Regions from separate parts of the Homo sapiens genome. Here region 2 is linked to region 1. Evidence: fine-mapped expression QTL. Tissue or cell type: whole blood. Region 1 holds a variant in brackets; the other region holds the start of a gene. All regions are shown on one strand. Distances are from middle to middle.

Region 1 (8,177 bases):
ATTACATCCACTCTCAACACTCCTATTAAACATCACACTGAAAATCCTAACTTATGCAATAAAATATGAAGACAAAAAAAATTTTAAAGGCCAGGTGCAGGTGGTTCATGCCTTTCATCCCAGCACTTTGGGAGGTCGAGGTGGGAGGATCTTTTGAGCCCAGGAGTTCAAAAACAGCCAGGGCAACATACTGAGACCCTGTCTCTATGAAAACAGAAAAATGATCTGGGCATGGTGGTGTGCACCTGTAGTCCCAGTTACTTGGGAGGCTGATGTGGGAGGATCCCTTGAACCTGGGAAGCAGAGGTTGCAGTGGGATCAAGCCACTGCACTCCAGCCTGGGCAACAGAGCAAGACTGTGACTCAAAAAAAAAAAAAAGAAAGAAAAAAAGAAAAGAAACATTAGCTGGGCATGATGGTGTGCACCTATAGTCCCAGCTACTGGAAAGGCAGAAGTGGGAGGATTACTTGATGCCAGGAAGTCAAGGCTGCAGTGAGCCATGATCATGCCACTGCACTCCGGCCTGGGTGACAGAGCAAGACCCTGTCAAATAAAATAAATAAATAAATAAATAAAAAGAAGAAGAAGTAGGGGGCAGGTATAAGCGTTGGTAAGGAAAAAAAACCTGTCTTTCCTCACAGATGGCATTAATGTCTCTGTGCCCAAAAAATCAACAAGAACCTTCTAATGCTAATAAGCCTTATAGCAAGGTTGCAGAATCCATTGGTCACAGGGCCAATATGCAACAGTCAATTGCTTTCCTAAACACTAGCATGAACCATTGCAATTTGAAATTTATTTTTATTTTTTACTTATTTACTTTTTGAGACAGAGTCTCACTCTGTCACCCATGCTGGAGCACAGTAGCCCAATCTGGGCTGAATGCAACCTCCACCTCCTGGGTTCAACCGATTCTCATGCCTCAGCCTCCAGGTAGCTGGGACTACAGGTGCCCACCACCACACCCAGCTAATTTTTTGTATTTTTAGTAAAGATGGAGTTTCACCATGTTGGCCAGGCTGGTCTCGAACTCCTGACCTCAGGTGATCTGCCCACCCTGGCTTCCCAAAGTGCTGGGATTACAGGCGTGAGCCACAGTACCCGGCCACAGTTTGAAATTTAAAACACAATACAATTTATATTAACACCAAAATAGAAGAAAGAAATATTTTGGAATAAACCTATAAAAATAAAAGGAGAAATATTCCATGTTCACGAATGAGAAGTTTCAATATTATTAAGATGACAATTCTGCCCAACCTGATCTGTAGACTCAAGGCCATCCCAATTAAAAAAAACAAAAAGGCTGGCAAGTTATTTTGTGGATCTCTACAAACTGATTCTAAAGTTTACATGGAAAGGCAAAAGACCCAGAATAACCAACACAATACTGAAGAGAAAGAACAAAGTCAGAGGTCTGACACTATTCAATTTCAAGACTTACTATAAAGCTACAATAATCAAGGCAGTATGGTATTTGCAAAAGAATAGACAAATAAATTAATGGAACAGAATACAGAGCCTTGAAATAGATACACACAAATACAGCCATCTGATCCTTGACAAAGGAGCAACGGCAATACATTGAGAAAAGACAGTCTTTTTAACAAAGAGTTAGGAACAATTAGATGTACATAGGCAAAAAAAAAAAAAAAGAGAGAGAGAGAGAGAATCTAGGTCAGGCACGGAGGCTCATGCCTGTAATCCTAGCACTTTGGGAGGCTGAGGCAGGCAGATCACCTGAGGTAGGGAGTTCAAGACCAGCCTGACCAACATGGAGAAACCCCGTCTCTACTAAAAATGCAAAATTAGCCAGGTGTGGTGGCACATGCCTGTAAACCCAGCGACTCGGGAGGCTGAGGCAGGAGAATTGCTTCAACCTGGGAAGCAGAGGTTGTAGTGAACCAAAATCGCACCATTGCACTCCAGCCTGGGTGACAAGTGAAACTCCATCTCAATTAAAAAAAAAAAAAAAAAAGGAATCTAAACACAGGCCTTACACCTTTCACAAAAATTAACTCAAAATGGATCATAGACCTAAATGGAAAATGGAAAACTATGAAACTTCTAGAAGATAACAAGCCAGGTATAGTGGCTCACACCTGTAATCCCAGCATTTTGGGAGGCTAATGCAGGCAGATTGCTTGAGCTCAGGAGTTCGAGACCAGCCTAGGCAAAACCCCACCTCTACAAAAAATACAAAACTTAGCCAGGTGTAGTGGCACGTGCCTGTAGTCCCAGCTACTCAAGAGGCTGAGGCAGGAGGATACCGTGACTCTGGGAGGTTGAAGCTGCTGTGAGCTAAGATCGTCCCACTGCACTCTAGCCTGAGCAACAGAGCACGACCCTGTCACAAAAAAGAAGAAAAAAAGTCAACTTTAATTTAAACTATGGACCTTAGCTAATAATGTGTTCATATTGGCTTATTAATTGTAATTAATGTACCACACTAATGCAAGATGTTAATAATAGGAGAAACAGTGAGAGGAAAATATATGGGAACTTCCTTTACTATCTGTTCAATTTTTCTATAAATTTTCTATAAATTCAATTTTCTATAAAGGTGGGCTGGGCACGGTGGCTCATGCCTGTAATCCCAGCACTTAGGGAGGTCAAGGCAGGCGGATCACCTGAGGTCAGGAGTTCAAGACCAGCCTGGCCAACATGGTGAAACCCTGTCTCTACTGAAAATACAAAAATTAGCTGGGCATGGTGGTGCACACCTGTAGTCTCAGCTACTCAGGAGGCTGATGCAGGAGAATTGCTTGAACCTGGGAGGTGGAGGTTGCCGTGAGCCCAGATTGCACCACTGCACTCCAGCCTGGGCGACAGGGTGCGACTCCATCTCAAAAAAAATTAAAATAAAAATAAAGGTGTTCTAAAAGTAGTCTTTTTTTTTTCTTTTTAAAAATATTATGCTTAGGCTAGGTGCAGTGGCTCACGCCTGTAATCCCAGCACTTTGGGAGGCCAAAGCGGGCGGATCACCTGAGGTTGGGAGTTCGAGACCATCCTCACCAACATGGAGAAACCCTGTCTCTACTAAAAATACAAAATCAGCCAGGCATGGTGGCACATGCCTGTAATCCCAGCTACTCGGGAGGCTGAGGCAGGAGAATCGCTTGAACCTGGGAAGCAGAGGTTGCGATGAGCCAAAATTGCACCATTGCACTCCAGCCTGGGTGACAAGAGCGAAACTCCATCTATAAACAAATAAATAAATAGTATCCTTAAACCGATGAATAATATTTTGATGTAAGTGTTTATATGTGTTTTTCCCTGGTATTTTCTGCTACCCCATGATCTTCCCTACCCAGGCAGTTATATCAAGAGTCCCCTCTTGACTCATGGATGGGTGATTACAGAGGATCAGAGATCAAAAATGTCTGAGGCTTAACCAGAATTGGTGGTGCGTGCCTGTAGTCACAGCTACTCTGGAGGCTGAGGCGGGAAGATTGCATGAGCCCAGGAGTTTGAGACCAGTCTCGTCAACACAGTGAGACCCCCATCTCAAAAAACAAAACAGGCCAGGTGGGGTGGCTCATGCTTGTAATCCCAGCACTCTGGGAGGCTGAGGCGGGTGGATCATTTGAGGCCAAGAGTTCGATACCAGCTTGGCCAACATGGTGAAACCCCATCTCTACTAAAAATACAAAAATTAGCTGGGTGTGATGGCGCGCTACCTGCAATCCCAGCTACTCAGGAGACTGAGGCACAAGAATCACTTAAATCCAGGGGGTGGAGGTTGCATTGAACCAAGATGATGCCACTGTGCTCCAGCGTGGGCAACAGAGAAAGACTCTATCTCAAAAAAAAAAAAAAAGTCTGGGCGTGGTGACTCATGCCTATAATCCCAGCACTTTGGGAGGCTGAGGTGGGAGGATCACTTGAGCCCAGGAGTTCAAGACCAGTTTGGGCAACATAGGGAGATCCTATCTCTATAAAAAATGAAAAAATTCACCGGCTGTGATCGTATGCGCCTGTGGTCCCAGCTACTCAGGAAACTGAAATGGGAGGATCGCCTGAACTCAGGAGGTAGAAGCTGCAGTGAGCTGTGGTCACACCACTGCACTCTAGCCTGGGTAACAGAGTGAGACCCTGTCTCAAAAGACAAACAAAATGCCTGAGTCTTGACGTTGAGACTTCCAAAATCTAAAAATGATTTAGAAGATACTCATTCAGACTGGGTAGTTTTCCTTTTGGGGAGGAAGAAAAAAAGATGTCCTGGGCTAGGCCGGGCGTGGTGGCTGTAACCCCAGCACTTTGGGAAGCCAAGGCAGGTGGATCACGAGGTCAGGAGTTGGAGACCAGCCTGGCCAACATGGTGAAACCCCATCTCTACTAAAAATACACAAATTAGCCAGATGTGGTGGCATGTGCCTGTAGTCCCAGCTACTCGGGAGGCTGAGGCAGGAGAATCGCTTGAACCTGGGAGGTGGAGGTTGCAGTGAGCCGAGATTAAGCCATTGCACTCCAGTCTGGGCAACAAAAACGAAACTCCATCTCGAAAAAAAAAAAACAGATGACCTTAATTTCAATGTGCAATGTCCAGTAGTCTTCCATGTTGTTTTCAGTACAACCTCTTCAACTTGCGTATAAAAGGAGGTTAGACAAGACACATCTGCTGGTCTAATCTCCATCTTGATCTGGAAAGGGTTTATGGTGGTTTACAAGTTTATAACAAGACAGAAATTAAAACGGAGGCAAAAGGGCTTGGGCCCAGTGGCTCACACCTATAATCTC[G/C]GCACTTTGGGGGTGCTGAGGTGGGTAGATCACCTGAGGTCAGCAGTTCAAGACTAGCTTGGCCAACATGGTAAAACTCCATCTCTACAAAAATACAAAAATTAGCCTGGCGTGGTGGTGGGTGCCTGTAATCGTACCTACTCGGGAGGCCAAGGCAGGAGAATCACTTGAACCTGGGAGGCAGAGGTTGCAGTGAGCTGAGATTGCGCCATTGTCCTCCAGTCTGGGCAACAGAGCAAGACTCAGTAAAAAAAGGAAAAAAAAAAAAACTGAGACAAAAGTAAAGAAAAAGTCAAGCCAGGAATAGGGATTAAAAATTCAGAGCTTAGGCTGGGTGCAGTGGCTCACGCCTGTAATCTCAGCACTTTGGGAGGTCCAGGCGGGCAGATCACGAGGTCAGGAGTTCGAGACCAGCCTGGCCAACATGGTGAAACCCCGTCTCTACTAAAAATACAAAAATTAGCTGGGCGCAGTGGCCTGTGCTTGTAGTCCCAGCCACTCGGGAGGCTGAGGTAGGAGAATCGCTTGAACCCAGGAGGAGGAGGCTGTGCAGTGAGCCAAGATCACACCACTGCACTCCAGCCTGAGTGACAGACTCCGTCTCAAAAAAAAAAAAAAAAAAAATTTAGAGTTTAGCCAGACACAGTGGCTCACACCTGTAATCCCAGCATTTTGGGAGGCTGAGGCCGGTAGATCGCCTGAAGTCAGGAGTTCGAGAACAGCCTGGGCAACATAGTGTAACCCCATCTCTACTAAAAATACAAAAAATTAGCTGGGCGTGGTGGTGGGCCCCTGTAATCCCAGCTACTTGGGAGGCTGAGGGAGGAAAATCACTTGAACCCGGGAGGCAGAGGTTGCAGTGAGCCGAGATCGCACCATTGCACTCCAGCCTGGGCAACAAGAGTGAAACTCCATCTCAAAAAGAAAAAAGAAAAAAAGAAAAAAAAAATTCAGAGCTTAAAGAATTCAATGCTTGCCAGAGCTGGGCCGTATATTTGACTCAAAGTTTCCTAGCAGCCTGTGTGAAAAGGGAAATCTGATTAGTTATGCAGTTTACAATAACTATGTGATAAAGGCAAACTCTTGGCCGGGCATGGTGACTCACACCTGTAATCCCAGCACTTTGGGAGGTCCATGTGAGAGTCCAAGAGTTCAAGACCAGCTTGGGCAACATAGTAAGACCCCACCTCTACAAAAAATTTTAAAAATTAGCAGGGTGTGGTGGCACACGCCTGTGGTCAGCTACTCAGGAGGCTGAAGTGGGAGGATGCCTCATGAGCTGTGGTCACACCACTGCACTCCAGCCTGGGAGACAGAATGAGACCCTGTCTCAAAGAAAAAAAAAAAAAGGCACACTCCTGAATCTAAAGAAGTACAACTCTTTTTTATATAAGACCAGAAAAAAAATAATAAAACTCTATCCTGGAGTTTCTTATAAAGATGACACGTGTGATTTATTACTCATTTAAAAAGTGAAACCAGAGGAGAAACATCCTGAGGTAAGACTTTAACTGAACCCTTATGTGGTATAACAGACCTTATTTTTCATTTCATCACGCTACATGCTAAGTTAGAAACAAGTTCCCATGCATGTTAGGGTACATTTATATTTATGCCACAGTGTCAGAGTCTACACAGTTATTTTTTTCTTTTTTTTTTTTTTTTTTTGAGACGGAGTTTCACTCTTGTTGCCCAGGCTGGAGTGCAATGGCACAATCTCGGCTCACTGTAACCTCCTCCTCCCGGGTTCAAGCAATTCTTTTGCCTCAGCCTACTGAGTAGGGATGCCCGCCACCATGCCCAGCTAATTTTTGCATTTTTAGTAGAGATGGGGGTTTCACCGTGTTAGCCAGGCTGGTCTCAAACTCCTGACCTCAGGTGATCCGCCCACCTCGGCCTCCCAAAGTGCTGGGATTACAGGCATGAGCCACCTCACCCAGCCGTGTCCACAGTTTTCTAGTTTGCTGAGCTGCGGACCCACCAGCAGGTCTGCAGGGAAGGGATGTTCCTGGTAGAGCTCCTTAGGCCTCCCTCAGATCCATGGGATGCACTGGGACTGTTCCTTTAGCTACACAGATACATGACCATGTTCATCCTCTGCAGTTATTTAGTTATTACCCCAATCTTTCAGTGAAGTCTCTGCTAGACAAATGGAGTTGTAAGGTGACCTTGGTGTGACGGCAGGGGTAGTGATTATGATGGTGGTGATGTGAAAGGGTAGTGGTGAAAGTGAAGGGGATGAGGGTAGGGGTGGGGGGTGGTTACTTAAGGCTGCAGTCTGCAGTCTACTGCCGTGGCTGCTGAGAACAGTCTCTATTTGTCTGCCGTCAGTCTATCCAGATCCTTCTACCTGGGGGAAGATCTGGACTGGCCAAGCCTGGTCACATGGCAGCAACCAGGTTGCAACCAACAAAATTTCCTCTCTGGAGGGAAAATTAATCTAGATTTAGAAACTGCCAAGAGCTGGGTTTCTCAAGCCACCTTGGCCTTGAACTTCCTCCAAGGGCGGTCATCAGCAAGGGTGTAAGAGGTACTTGGGAGCCTGCAGTTGGTGGAGCTGAGATGGGTGTGGAGACCCCGCCTTTGTGATGGCCTGCAGGTTTCAGTTTTAAGCACGTGGCTTTAAAGGGGACTTTCCCCACCAGAGGAGGAAGAACTGACAATTGGAACAGCCCCTGAGCTTAACAAACTTTGCTGAAAGCAGCTACAATTGTCAAGCAATAAAGACTGAGATGGTAGAGTGTCCACACAGCTGCCGGCCGCTAGAGCCAAGACTGAAATCCAGAACCTTAGCCTGACCAAACCGGGAGTTCGTGAAAGCACAAAGCCTTCTGTGGGAAGGAGAAGGGAAATGAAAGCTAATATTAGGCTAAGCAGTTGTTGATAACGTTAAAAGTTTATGCCAAGTCAATGTGAAGAAAGAAATGACCAAAGATGGGCTTTCTGGTGGAGGAGATAAAGGATCATTGAGATGAAATGAGACCAGCATACCTTCCCTGAGATGCAAATTGCCCTCACCCCCCAATCTCAGCTAGGGAGACTGGGGGAGGGAGCTCTTTAAAAAATCAGGCCAGGCACAGTGGCTTGCTCCTGTAATCTCAGCACTTTGGGAGGCCTAGGTGGGCGGATCACTTGAAGTTAGGAGTTTGAGACCAGCCTGGCCAACATGGTGAAACCCTGTCTCTACTAAGAATACAAAAATTAGCAGGGTGTGGTGGCGCATACCTGAAATCCCAGCCTGTGCAACATGGCGAAACCCCGTCTCTACTAAAAATAGAAAAATTAGCCAGGCACCTATAATCCCAGCTACTTGGGAGGCTGAGGCATAAGAATCACTTGAACCCAGGAGGCGGAGCTTGCAGTGAGCCGAGATGGCACCACTGCACTCCAGCCTAGGCAACAGAGCGAGACTCCGTCTCAAAAAAATAATAAATA
Region 2 (8,177 bases), 35 kb after region 1:
ACTTTGGGTGGCCGAGGCGGGTAGATCACTTGAGGTCAGGAGTTCGAGACCAGCCTGGCCAACATGGTGAAACCCCGCCTCTACTTAAAATACAAAAAATTAGCCGGGCGTGGTGGTATGCACCTGTAATCCCAGCTACTTGGGAGGCTGAGGCAGGAGAATCGCTTGAATCCGGGAGGCGGAGGTTGCAATGAGCCGAGATCACACCATTGCACTCCAGCCTGGGGGACAAGAGCGAGACTTCATCTAAAAAAAAAAAAAAAAAAAAAAACCACCCTTTTAGGTGTATAGTTCTATGAGTTTTGACAGATTCACAGAGTCATCCAGTAATGTAAATACCACAATCAAGTTAGAGAATATTCTCATCATCTCAAAAAGTGTGATCAGTCCACCCTTCCCCAGCTCCAGTTGCCAGTAACCATTGATCTAATTTCTGTCCCTATACTTTAATTTTTTACTTTGAAATAATCATTTACCCATAGGTAGTTGCAAAGAGGGCCCAGGTACACTTTCTCAAATGGGAACATCTTACAAAGCTATGGAAAAATATCAAAAGCCAGGAAACTGACATTGGTACAATACTATCAAGTAGACTACAGACCTTATTCAGATTTCACCAGTGCTTACATCCATTAGCTTATTTGAAAAAACATAATTGGGCCATAGTATGAAAGAAGGGTCAGCCTAGCAAAAACACGCATTAGTTACAGTTGTCCACAGAAGAAAGGAGAACTCAGGAGGGTGCAGAGAGAGGAAGGGACTGGAGGAAAACATTTCTGGAGTGGAACAAAAATCATTTGGTAGACAATTTGGTATAAGGATTTAAATTAATCCTTCTTGATCTTCTTTTCTTTTTTGAGACAGAGTGTCACACTGTCACTCAGACTAGGATGTGGTGGTACAATCACGGCTCACTGCAGACTCGACCTCCTGGGCTCAAGCAATCCTCCCACCTCAGCCTCCTGAGTATTTGGGACCAAAGGCGGATGCCACCACGCCCAGCTAATTTTTTTTTTTTTTTTGAGACGGAGTCTCACTCTGTCATCCAGGCTGGAATGCTCCCAGGTTCAAGCAGTTCTCTGCCTCAGCCTCCCAAGTAGCTGGGATTACAGGCGCGTGCCACCACATCAGGCTAATTTTTGTATTTTTAGTAGAGATGGGGTTTCACCATCTTGGCCAGGCTGATCTTGAACTCCTGACCTCGTGATCCACCTGCCTCGGCCTCCCAAAGTGCTGGGATTACAGGTATGAGCCACTGCTCCTGGCCGCTAATTTTTATATTTTCCGTAGAGATAGGGTTTCGCCCAGGCTGGAAATTAATCCTTTTTTTGGAAATGAAATTTCCCATATGGCAGGGCAGCAAGCAAAAGGTTGTTTTAAATTGAACAGCCTGACCGCTAAGTGAATGAAGGTCATGAAAACCCCAAATAACCATAATATTTCTGCTTACTCTTATTTAAAGAGGAAAAAAAATGGTTTAGTTACTCTCTCCTTACTCTTGCCTGACTGAAAAAAATGAAGTAACTGTCGAAAACAAAGTTATCTGTTTAGTTAGCTAACCCTCTGCAAAACCAAGCAAATGAAATCTCTATATTTACTCTTAGTCCCTCCTGCAGTTCAGTACTGTTGTAGGCTTTCCTATCTGCTCCACCATTTTATCAGACTACAGCACTGATAATGCCTTAATCTCTATACAATTTATTTATAGACATCACTTACCCATCAGGAGACAATGGGATCAGCGTTGTTCTCCCCATTTTTACAGCCCAAGAAATTGAGGCTCCTGATACCCAGGATCACATATGCCAACACCGTAAAATGCTCAGAAAGGCATCGACACAGAGCTTTACTTAATACCCTTCTTTCTACTCCACCACACCCCATTTACGGCCAGGTTGGATCTCTTTCTACAAGAGAAATGGAATAAATTTGTGCAGGAGCTCCATACAGGCAATAAAAATATCTCTGGTGACAAAGTCCTCATTTAAACTCCAGTTTGTTTATCACTAGTTACTACCAAATACAGTCCCTTGGGAGTTCTGAGTGACCCAAAACCTACTTCCTGGACTTCAAGATGAGCTTTTAGTTTCTTTGAAATCAGGAAGTGTCTTAAAACCAGATTCAATGAAATACGGTAACAATCTTTTTACTGTGTCCTGTGCTAGGTATTTTATATGCATTTTAGCACTTAACCTCCAAACCTCTTATTATTAAACCTCTGTTGTTACGTCCATTTTAAAGATAGAAAAGTCAGGGCACAGAGAGGTTTAGAGATCACACAGCCAGCAAATGGTGGACAGTATAAGAGTAACCTCAAAGCAAGCAGTACCCCAGATTCCAATTTCAGTTGACTTAGCCTGGTAACAGTTCAATTTTATGCAAAACCCACAACTTCAAATGGAAAAAGATAAATTAAAACAACCACAAAAACCAGACAAATGGAGGCTCAGCAGGCCTTGTAGCTCATCCACGGTTACACAGAGGATCTCAGAGCCAAAATTCCATGGCCGATCCGTCTTGACTTCAAAGCGCGATCTATTTCCACCAAACCACGGAACCATCGACACGTGGTAAGGGGCAGTACAAAGATTTGTTGAATTAATAATGCCTGAAAACAAATTGACAATAAGAAGGTAAAAATGGAAAACACAGATAAAATCGGAAAAGCAGACCACTTTCAGGAAACAAAAAACTCCAAATTTTCAAGGCAGGGCATTCACGGTGAGCCAAGGCGCTGGGACAAAGTTTGCGCGGGTACCGCCGGACTCCCGGGCTGCCCGGCGCGGAGTCTTTAACGGAGATGGTTCGCAAGGAATCGGCCTCGGAGCCCGGCAGCCTCCTGGCTTCCCTCCTGACCACCAGTAACCCGGCCGGGAAACACTGGCGAAGACCGGGGGCCAGTCGCCTTCCCTTTCTGGGCTGTTGGCTTAAAATACACACAAACACAAGTCCCCAGGCGGTCCGCGGCCTCTCAGTGGGGCTGGAGCTCGCTGCCCGAGGCCCGCCCGGAAGCCATGCACCTGCGGACAGGAGTCTCTCCGAGTCGCAGCTCGCCGCCGAGAAGCACCCACCTCCCGCGGCCGGCGCAGCCCAAGGCCCTGGCCCCTATAGCCCGGCCTAGGCCCGCCCCAGGCGGGGCTAGGGGCGGCGTGGCGGGCGGGCGCCCCTCGGGCCGCGCCGGTGAGCAGCGGGAGCCGGCGCCGGGCATTTCCTCTTCCTCCCTACGCGCGGCGCGGCGGCGGCGGCGGCGGCCAGGCCGAGGCTGGGCACGGGCGCCCGATCGCGGCCTGCTGGCTAGCGCGGGCAAGCGCCGCGCCCCGAGCCGCCGTCGCCGCGTCGCCCCCGTCGCGACCGCCGGCCGCGGGGCCTCCGGGCGGCTGGGCCCGGCGAGGGCAGCGAGAGGCGGGGCTGGCGTGCGGGCGGCGGAAGGAGGCGGAGGAGGAGGAAGAGGAGGAGGAGGAGGCGGCGGCCGGGAGCCGGGGGAGAGGGGCGGGGGGTGGGCCGGGGGAGGGGAGGAGCGGGATTTGCGGAGCGCCGCGCCGCTGCCGGGAGCCGGCAGGCCCGAGAGTGACCGGAGTCACGGCGGGCGCCGGCGGAGCTGCGGCGTCGGACCCGCCTCCTGGAGGAGCTCAGCCCCGACCAGGCCCGGCCCCATTCCCGCCCCGCGCCGCCTCCCCGCCGCCGCCGCCGCCGCCGCCGCGGGAGCGCTCCCCTGCCCACCCCGCCCCCGCGGCCGAGCCCGGGAGTCGAGTGGGAGTCGGCCGGCCGGCGCGGGCAGCGCCGGGACCCCGCGGGGGACACTGCAGCCGGAGCCCGGGAGGGGCCGCGCCGCCACCGTCTGAACTAGGATGTCCCGACATGAAGGTGAGAGGAGCCCCCGCCCCCACCCGCACCTCCCGGGCCTCGGCCTACCCCGCCCGGGCCGGGCGCGGCGGAGGGCGGCCGGGAAGCGGCGGAGACTTTGGCCGAGCCCGAGCCGGGCCCGAGGCGCTGGACCCGGGAGCGAGCGAGCGAGGGCGGAGAGCCGCGGCGCCGCTGCCGCCACGGCCGCGGCCCTTAGCTGGGCCTGGTGCTGGAGGCGGGGCGGCCCGGGCGGCCGGAGGGTTTGCACTGTCATGGGGCGGAGGGGGAGGGGAGGCGGCGGGGCCCGTTACCGGCGGGAGCTCGGCCTTCGGGACTGATACCGGACGCCAAGGCCCGCCCGGCCGGTTCAGGAGCCGCGGGCCCCAGCGCGGCCTAGCGCTCCCGCCGCCCCGGAAGAGCCCGGTGTGGTCGCAGAGCCGGGCCGCGGGCGGCAGCAGGAGGCAAAAGAGCCGGCCCGGGACCCGGCAGGCGCGTCCGGTCGCCGGGAGACGACGGCGAGTGTCCCCGCCTGCGGGCGACCGCGGGGCTGGCGGGAAGGCTCTGCGGCCAAGGGACGGGAAGCCCTCGCCGCCTGGAGCCCGCCCCGGCCTCGCGGCTAGGCCTCGGCGCGTCCCTGGGCTCGGGTAACCAAGTTCCCGGGGTGGATCCGACCCCGCCGCAGCAAGCAAACTCCCTGCTCAGTCACCCAGGCGGAGCAGGGCTCGCTCCCCGCGGCCCTGGTGCCCTCGCCGGCATGTGCTGCCTACCAGACCAGGTTTTGGAAAATGACGATGGTGAGGTCTGTTCATGGTCGGGGGTCGTTTTGGACCTTGTTTTGCCATTTTAAAACACGATTGGAGTACAGTTGCAAATAAGCAGACAGCTCTAAGCCCAGTCCCAGGGCACAAAGAGACAAATGTTTAGGGTCGATGTATAGGCTTTGAGCTGGTAAGAAATAAGTTAACTTTAATTTATTGCCATATGGTTTAGAAAAGGAGGAGGGGGTTGTGTTTTCTTTGTTTCACTACTACAGGTTTTTGGATAAAAAGTGTTAAGAGTCTTGGCGAAAAGTTTGTCCTGCTAAGGTTAATACAAGATTGTAGAAGTGGCTTGAAAGTTTGTGTACTCCGGATTTTAAAATCCTGTATAGGTGATGTAGGAGTGGAGAAAGTTTAGTGAGTCAGTTTAGTGTGTGCTTAGCACTATGGGAAGGATATTCTTTGGGAAATACGGACCTTAGAATTTCAAGGCTGAAAAACTCAGATTGATTAAAATTGTATTTAGAACAAGTTTCAAAATTCGCATTACTAATTGCGACGTTGAAATTGACTCAACATTCTGTGTTCAACGATTCTGTATTTTAAAAGTTACAAAACTAATATGAAATATACTATATTTTCTTCGCAAAGCATTTGTTGAGTACTTACAGTGTTCAAGTGTTGGGCATTTTGAAATAATGAGGTACCTAGCCTCATTGAAAGGGACACAGAAGTAGGAAGCTATGCCTCTTTTCCCCACTTCGTCTGCTTAATCGAAATGTATCCTTATCTCTGTAATTTTAAGAACTCGTAATTAAAGTTATAATCAGTTTTCAATTTGGGATATTAAAGTTTATCTTAAACTGTAGTCCTGTGTACATTGACCACCTTCAAGACAAAACAAAAGTGAGCAATGGCTGCAAGCTCTCTTACTCTTGAAAACTGGGAGGGTTAGTTAGAGAATCACAGCCATGGAAGAGTGTTTCAGACCCATTCTCCTTGGTCTAAGAAAGCATACAGATAGTTCCAGACGAGCATTCTAATTGAAGTGTCCTGGGAAGAAAATTCCTTCACCCCCAGTGCTCTGTTAGAGTAATTAAAATCTCATATTTGGAACATTCTTGAATGTAACATATATTCTGTAATTTAAGCCCATTTCCCCCCATTTGGTGCTGTGCAAAGGTGTGTGGTTATGAAACTTATATTACCTTTTAGTTACTTGAATATTGCTGAACCTCAGCACACTAGTAGCACACCTTTCCTAGTAACTTATGTTAATGTCAGTAAATAGAACATACCTAATGAAAAAGGAACATACCTAAATACATCTGTTGAAGACTTATAGTACAATATTCGACAAGTGATTCTCTTTCAAGGGTCTAGTTTATGGCCTAAGACAGGAATAGCAGTCTCACGAATCACATTTAACTCATTAGATACATATTTTGTGGAATATTAGTTCAGACTGTCATTATTGTCATCAGTAAGACTTTGACCTATCAGTAAATACAGTGTTTGGCACCCTTGCTATTAGTTCTTTTCTTACCTTTGCCTTTTTTGGGCCAAAGAATCCCATTTCTTTCAGCATTTCTTTCTTTCTTTCTTTTTCTTTATTTCTTTCTTTTTTTTTTTTTTTTTTTTTTAGCTGGAGTCTCACTCTGTCACCAGGTTGGAGTGCAGTGGCGTGATCTCGGCTCACTGCAACTTCCACCTCCCAGATTCAAGCAGTTCTCCTGCCTCAGCCTCCCAAGTAGCTGGGATTACAGGCGCCTGCCACCACACCCATCCAATTTTTGTATTTTTAGTAGAGATCGGGTTTCATCATGTTGGTCAGGCTGGTCTTGAACTCCTGACCTCAGGTGATCCACCCGCCTTGGCCTCCCAAAGTGCTGGGATTACAGGCGTGAGCCACCACGCCCAGCCTCCGTGTTTCTTTAGTGGTGTAATTTTTGCACTCTCAGTCATCTGTCCACCTCCAAATTCTCTGTAGTTCTCATTTCCTTTCAGTAGTGTGATCCTGAACTGGATATAATAGTCTGGTAAAAGGTTTGAACAAGCCTATCATGTTGTACTTGCTTGGTGCTTCCTTTTCAGGGCCTTATGTGTGCAGGTAATATGTTACTTTGTCTTTGTACCCACCCTAATGAATTACACTAAATCCTATGATTTTATTAATGTAACTTTGGATGACACAGTCCTGAGATGGACACCTGTCAAGCTTGAAGGCTCAACCTTGTGAAGCAGTGCCTCTGAGAAAGGCAATGCAACCAGGAGCATAGAGAGATGCTCTAGTCCCGGGTTCAGCATGCTTCTTCTGTAAAGGGCTAGGTGGCAAACATTGCAGGCTTGGCGGAGCTGTAATAGTACGAAAGCAGCTATAGACAACCTGTAATTGAAAGATCATGGCTCTGTTCCAATTAAAACTTTATTTGTGGACACTGACATTTTAATTTCATATATATATATATATATATATATATATATATATTTTTTTTTTTTTTTTTTTTTTTTTTTTTTTTGAGACACAGTCTTGCTCTGTTGCCCAGGCTAGGGTGCAGTGGCGTGATCTTGGCTCACTGCAACCTGCACCTCCCGGGTTCAAGTGATTCTCCTGCCTCAGCCTCCCGCGTAGCTGGGATTGCAGGCGCCCACCACTGCGCCCGGCTAATTTTTGTATTTCGTTTAGTAGAGATGGGGTTTCACCATGTTGGCCAGGGTGGTCTCAAACTCCTGACCTCGTGATCCGCCGGCCTCGGCCTCCCAAAGTGGTGGGATTACAGGCGTAAGCCACCGCACCTGGCCGAATTTCATATAATTTTCATGTGTCATGAAATATGATTTGTCATTTGACACCCCCACCATTCAAAAATACAAATAACCATTCTTAACTTTCGGGCTATATAAAAGCTGGTGGTGGACCGGCCGTGGTGGCTCACGCTGAGGCAGAGAATTGCTTGAACCCAGGAGGTGGAGGTTGCAGTGAGCTGAGGTCGTGCCACTGCACTCCAGCCTGGGCGACAGAGTGAGAATCCATCTCCAAAAAAAAAAGTGGTGGTTGGATTTGGCCTGAGGGCTGTAGTTTGCCTTACTTTACCTCTGCCCTAGACTGGCGCTTTAGAGAGTTGATAGAGCTTGAACTATCAAGAGTCTAGAAGGGGCCCAGTCAGCTTGGGATTCCGTCATTTTCTTTGGGTGATGGGAAATGAGTTCACAGACTGAACCAGCTCCTCCGTACTTCACTTTTCAGCAGCACCATGAGGAATGGAAATAATTGTTCCTCAGGAGTGGACAACAGGCTCCCCACCCTACAGACCCTTAGTGGAGATGGCAGTACCCTACATTTTTCCTGCTTGCCCGTTAATACTTTTCCAGTGAGAATTGTAGGGCCACTTTTAACTCACTTTGTGGTGTTCTTGTCATGTTAACATTTTATAGACTTTAGCACCCACTTTGTGTTCACCCTGCCAACACTGTCTAGTTCACAGTGAACCCAATCATTTTTTATCTTGATGTATTTTTTAAAATGTCTCACTATCATACTTTCAAATACATTTAAAATGTAAGTATGTTATTCAG

Evidence for each region. PIP is the estimated chance that this variant, and not a neighbour inherited with it, causes the effect.
Region 2: KCMF1 starts here. The variant in region 1 is fine-mapped to the expression of KCMF1 in whole blood (TOPMed, PIP 0.97).

Annotation. Positions count from the first base shown.
Region 1 is chr2:84,932,479-84,940,655 of GRCh38, forward strand. No RefSeq gene overlaps it. Among named protein-coding and RNA genes, the nearest start is that of TMSB10, 31 kb to the left of the region's middle. RefSeq lists an enhancer at 7,031-7,540. The variant G/C (reference allele first, on the strand shown) is at 4,743.
Region 2 is chr2:84,967,604-84,975,780 of GRCh38, forward strand. KCMF1 (potassium channel modulatory factor 1) reads left to right here and starts at 3,558. Exons shown (of 7, transcript NM_020122.5): 1 at 3,558-3,864. The coding sequence starts at 3,849. RefSeq lists enhancers at 2,485-2,564, 6,831-7,372, 7,373-7,914 and silencers at 3,063-3,312, 3,343-4,432.